2 separate regions of the Homo sapiens genome follow, and region 2 is linked to region 1. Evidence: fine-mapped expression QTL. Tissue or cell type: sigmoid colon. Region 1 holds a variant in brackets; the other region holds the start of a gene. All regions are shown on one strand. Distances are between the middles of the regions. Region 1 overlaps CENPI (centromere protein I). Region 2 holds the start of TMEM35A (transmembrane protein 35A).

Evidence for each region. PIP is the estimated chance that this variant, and not a neighbour inherited with it, causes the effect.
Region 2: it holds the start of TMEM35A, and the variant in region 1 is the best candidate, but not a certain one, in a credible set for the expression of TMEM35A in sigmoid colon (GTEx, PIP 0.61).

Annotation. Positions count from the first base shown.
Region 1 is chrX:101,147,766-101,150,265 of GRCh38, forward strand. CENPI (centromere protein I) reads left to right here. Exons shown (of 22, transcript NM_001386188.2): 19 at 1-46; 20 at 178-396. Among named protein-coding and RNA genes, the nearest start is that of CENPI, 51 kb to the left of the region's middle. The variant G/A (reference allele first, on the strand shown) is at 1,481.
Region 2 is chrX:101,076,958-101,079,980 of GRCh38, forward strand. TMEM35A (transmembrane protein 35A) reads left to right here and starts at 1,922. Exons shown (of 2, transcript NM_021637.3): 1 at 1,922-2,165. The coding sequence starts at 2,046.

The DNA.
Region 1 (2,500 bases):
TCGTAAAAATTTGACTGCCGCAAAGAAAAATGAGTTGGTACAAAAGGTATGAATGAGAAAGCTCTGTGTTAAATCACTGTTGTTTAAAAATTAAGTCTAGATATATATGACCTGATGGGAGTAAGAAGGAAAGGGAGAATAGGTGATAGTGACAATTTTTTATTTCTTTCCCATTAGACAAAATCAGAGTTCAATTTCAGCAGCAAGACTTATCAAGAATTTAATCACTATTTGACATCAATGGTTGGTTGCCTGTGGACGTCCAAACCCTTTGGGAAAGGAATATATATTGACCCTGAAATCCTAGAAAAAACTGGAGTGGCTGAATATAAAAACAGTTTAAATGTAGTCCATCATCCTTCTTTCTTGAGTTACGCTGTTTCCTTTTTGCTACAGGTAAGGGTATTTAAAGAATTTTTAGATTTTGTATCTTAATACTGTGGTGGCAGAAATAGGAAGTGCCATAAATTTAATGTGTCTGAATTGTAAGACGTGTGTTTAGTAATTTTTTTTAAGTAACAACTAAATTTTGGGCATTGTGCTAGGCTCAGGGATTCCAGTTAATTTAAGTAAGTTTCTGTCCTCTAAGAGAGCTTGAGCTTGTAACAGAGACAGACTTGTAAACAAATTACTATAATACAGTGTGGCAAAATGAGAAAAGGTTCAGTTGTAAGAAAGATGGGGGAGTGATTAGTCCAGTCCTGCCTGGGTAGAGGTGGTGCCATGTAAGGAAACGCTTCATAGATGTGGAAGCTCTCATAAAATCCTTCTAGACAAGATAGAATATGTAGGTTAGTTAATAGTACAATTAGAGTCTTAGTCAAAGACTGCTGATTTAATGGATTGATATCAATATGCAGGCAGGTGGAGGAGGGTTTATGTTTGTGTGTGTCCTTTCAGGACTTCATTCTCAGCCCTGTCACTTTCAACATTATGTGTGTGTGACATGGAGAAGAACTCAAATGGTGGTATCTGAAATGCATGGATGAGACAACAGGGTGGAATTACAAATACCCTGAAAGAATTTGGACTCAGGATTCCCTTAACAGACGGGAACATTGAGAAATCTAACAAAATGAAAAAAAAGTGTGCAGGGTGGGGGAGATATTCATTGAATAAATTTTAATATATGTATACAATGAACCAGGCACTACAGTGAATAAGACACTCTGAGTGTTGTCCTCAGAGAGCTTAACATCTAGTCAGGGAGGCAGTCATTAAACAGACATCTTAGAAAAAACAATAATAAGTGATGTAATAGGGGAAAGTATAGAGGATGATGAAAAAATATAAAGGGGCGCTAAGTTCAGGATTTGCAGAAATGATGCTGATTGGAATTTTGAAGCACGAACATGAGCTTGTCAAGATAGGAGCAGAGTTTGAGGAAAAGTACAAAGATGCAGAGCAAAGATAGAACAGAAGTCAGCAGACTTTTCTTGTAGAGGGCCAGATTGTAAATATTTTAGATTTTACAGGCCAC[G/A]TGGTCTGTGTCAAGAGTACTCAACTTTATCATTGTAGCATGAAAGCAGCTGTAGACAAAGCATAAACAGATGGCTATAGTTGTATTCCAGTAAAAAATTTATTTACAAAACAGGTGTTGAGCTAGAGTTTGGGCTTTGGGCCGTGGTTGGCTGAACTCTGTGTTAGAGCCTGTCATGTTTGAGGAACATGAGGCAGAATTGTAGGGCTAGAGCAGTGATTCTACACTGGCTGAGCAGCAGAATTGTCAGTGGTGCTTCTTCTTTTTTTTTTTTTTTTTGAGATAGAGTCTCGCTCTGTCGCCCAGGCTAGAGTGCAGTGGTGCGATCTTGGCTCACTGCAACCTCTGCCTCCCAAGATCAAGCAATTCTCCTGCCTCAGCCTCCCGAATAGCTGGGATTACAAGTGCCCACCACCACGCCTGGCTAATTTTTATATTTTTAGTAGAGACAGGGTTTTGCCATGTTGGCCAGGGTGGTCTTGAACTCCTGACCTCAGGTGATCTGCCTGCCTCGGCCTCCCAAAGTGCTGAGATTATAGGCATGAGCCACCGCGCCCGGCCAGTGGTGCTTTTTCAAAGTGTACATCCTTGGCTGCTCCCATGCTGAGACTCCGATTTAATAACTCTAGGGTGACATTCAGGACCCACCTTTTAAATAGTTCTGATATACAACAAGAGTTGAGAGCCACTGGGCTAGACTATAACATGATAGGAGATGAGGTTTTGAAATGTAGTCAAGGACTAGATGCTGAGGAAAATAATACATAAGCCTCTGAAACCATATTGATTGATTAGAATATTTGAATAAGAATTATATTTTTTAACTACGTAGAAGAATTTCAGAGACATTATAGTGATTTTCTGATATTTCTTGTCTTTTTCTCTTTTCTTACCTTCATAATAACTTGATTTATCATACAATATACAATAACCTGTGTCAAATTAATAATATTAATGTTACTACTAATATGAGGCTACTAGATGAAATTTTAAATGTTTGCAGGTCTTTTTCCCCCTGCA
Region 2 (3,023 bases), 71 kb before region 1:
GCAAGGTGAACCCCTTGGGAGGTTACAGTTTCACCATGCTGGTCAGGCTGGTCTTGAACTCCTGACTTCAGGTGATCTGCCTGCCTCGGCCTCCCAAATTGCTGAGATTATAGGCGTGAGCCACCACGCCTGGCCATGCATCACATTTTTATTTGTAAAAGTAAAAACCATGGAAACAACATCAATATCTAGCAATAGGATGCAAAATGAATGAGAACTATAGTACATTCAAGTGATGCTAAAGTTTTATACAATCATTAAAAATGATTGTTTAGGGCTGAGCATGGTGGCTCATGCCTGTAATCCCAATGCTTTGGCAGGCCAAGGCAGGAGGATCGCTGGAGCCCAGGAGTTCAAGACCAGCCTGGTTGACATAAGGTAGCCCCATGTCTACAGAAAATAAAAAATAAATTACCCGGGTGTGGTGACACGTGCCTGTAGTCCCAGCTACTTGAGAGACTTGTAGTCCCAGCTACAAGAGAGAGCCTCTCACTTGAGCCCACGAGGTTGAGGTTGCAGAGGGAGACCCTCTGCAGGGTCTCAAAAAAAAAAAAAATCGTGTAGGGCTGGGCTCCGTGGCTCATGCCTGTAATCGCAACACTCTGGGAGGCCGAGGCGGAAGGATCCCTTGAATCCAGGAGTTAGAAATCAGCCTGGACAACATCACAAGGCTCTGACTCCACAAAAAATAAAAAAATTAGCCAGGCATGGCGGCATGTGCCTGTGATCCCAGCTACTCCGGAGGCTGAGATGGAGGATCACTTGAGTGAGACTTTGTCTCTAAACAAAACAAAACTCTGTGTGTGTGTGCGTGAGCATTTACAGTGCTAAACAACTTTAAGTACCACACTAATAGTGAAAAATATTACAGGAGAGGCAGCAGAGCAATTGTTAAGAGCCTGGGCCCTAGAAATGACTGCCTAGGTTTGAGGCCTGGCTCTCCACTTACTAGCTGTATACTCCTGGGCAAGTTACCTACCTTCCCAGCCCCTCAATGTGCCCATTCATAGCATGGGGACTCATACCTAGTCCATAGTGTTGCTGTAAAGATTAAATTAGTTAATACAAGTAGAGGGCAGCGTCTAGCATCTAGTAAACAGTTGACAATTATTGGTTATTGTTATAGAAAATTGGAGGAGGGAGAAATCATATCTAACTGACAATGGATCAGGAAAGGCTTTATAGAGGAGGTGACATTAAAGAAAAGGTTTAATGCTAATGAAGAGTGATGGTGGGGGGCGGGGTCAAAAGATAGGGAGTTAAAGGTAGAGGAGGTGGTAAGGCGTAGGTTGTGTGAGGCCGTGAGTAGATAGATGAGTGGTGGCGTGTGGCAGTGGGAGCCATTGAAAACTAAATCTCCAAAGAGAGACAGGGGTCAAAATGTGGAGGGCCTTGAATTCCAAATTTAAAACTGGAGTTAACCACTGGCTATGAGAGTCATTAAAGATTTCTGAGCAAGAGAAAGAGGAAGCCTTCTTTGGCAGCATTGAAGGCTGACAAATTTGCAGTTTTATCCTTGAGTGTTACGAACTTCAGAAACAACTCTCTGAGGGCTAATATTTTGATTTAGGAAAAGGAAAGGGGGACACAAAGGAAGAGATGGAAAAAGGGAGTGAATAACTGAAGGATGATAAGTGGGAGGGGGAGATGAAAAGTGAGCCCGGTGGGAAGGTGGCAGCAAAGCCTGTCTTCCCTAATTCCTCATTCCTGGGGTCACTTGGTGACTGAACTCATACATAACCTCCCTTCTCCCCATTTAAGATTTGAAGTTTCCGTCTTTCCTTTAGGGCTTCATTTAACTTCGAGACTGTCCTTTTGGCCTGTGAGCACACGTAGGGCATTAGGACCCAGCGTTTGTTGTAGTGAGAGTGGTTGAATCTCGATCTCTCAATTTTTCTCTCGAGCTCCCTCCTCTCCCTTTGTCATTCTAGCTGCCTGCTGCCTCCGCAGCGTCCCCCCAGCTCTCCCTGTGCTAACTGCCTGCACCTTGGACAGAGCGGGTGCGCAAATCAGAAGGATTAGTTGGGACCTGCCTTGGCGACCCCATGGCATCCCCCAGAACCGTAACTATTGTGGCCCTCTCAGTGGCCCTGGGACTCTTCTTTGTTTTCATGGGGACTATCAAGCTGACCCCCAGGCTCAGCAAGGATGCCTACAGTGAGATGGTAAGTGAAGCAAACGGGTGATGAGGAGCGCACTCCCATGGGATTGCGAGGACCTCTCCCCTTTTTTCCTTCTCAGTTTCTGGTCCCACCCCCTTAGCCCCTATCCCCACCTGGACCCTCCGTTCTCAACAACTTTGCAGCTCGGAAGGAGCAGCTGGGCAAGAGCGATTTCTTTTGTGGGCTATGCTGTTCTGGAGCCACTGAATGCCAGTTGGGGGAGGGGTTGCGCAGCGAATACCCCCCATCCCAAGTAAACCAGAAGGCTGAGACCTGCGTAGCACCTGTCATTGGCAGGAGCCCTTCCCTCCTTCCAGCACACACCCAAAGTCCGGGCAACCAGTATACAAGTCTGATTCCCTCCCTGTGAGCTAAGAGTTTAGCAAGCGGAGAGTTTATTTATTTTAGAGCAGAACAAAAGGGAAAGAGGAAAAGAGCTGGGAAAAATGGGCTACTAAAACAAGCAATTTTTAGGGGCTGACTGGTATTCCTCATCCCAGGCAGACAGCTGATAGTATTCCTCCAGCCACCTGGGTATGTATCTGGATCCTTGAGACAAAGCATTCTTGGCCCAAATAAAGGTCACTAAGCTCTTGTTTCTTCCCCTTCTCTCAAGGGAGAGCTAGATGTTTTGTTTTATTTTGTTTTGTGTGTGGGGTAATCTACAAAATCTGCAAAGTCTGCTTTTTCTCTCCCGCAAACAGTCCGTAATCCCCACCTTGCCTTCTGTGGATGACCAGAGCCAGGCCCTCTGCAGGTTTTCCCCTCTGCAGAGTTGGAATCAATCACGGAAGGTGACTGGCCAAAACATCTCCTCTGCAACCTGGGGGCTGGGCTGCTTTCCCCAGTTGGGCGTGATGA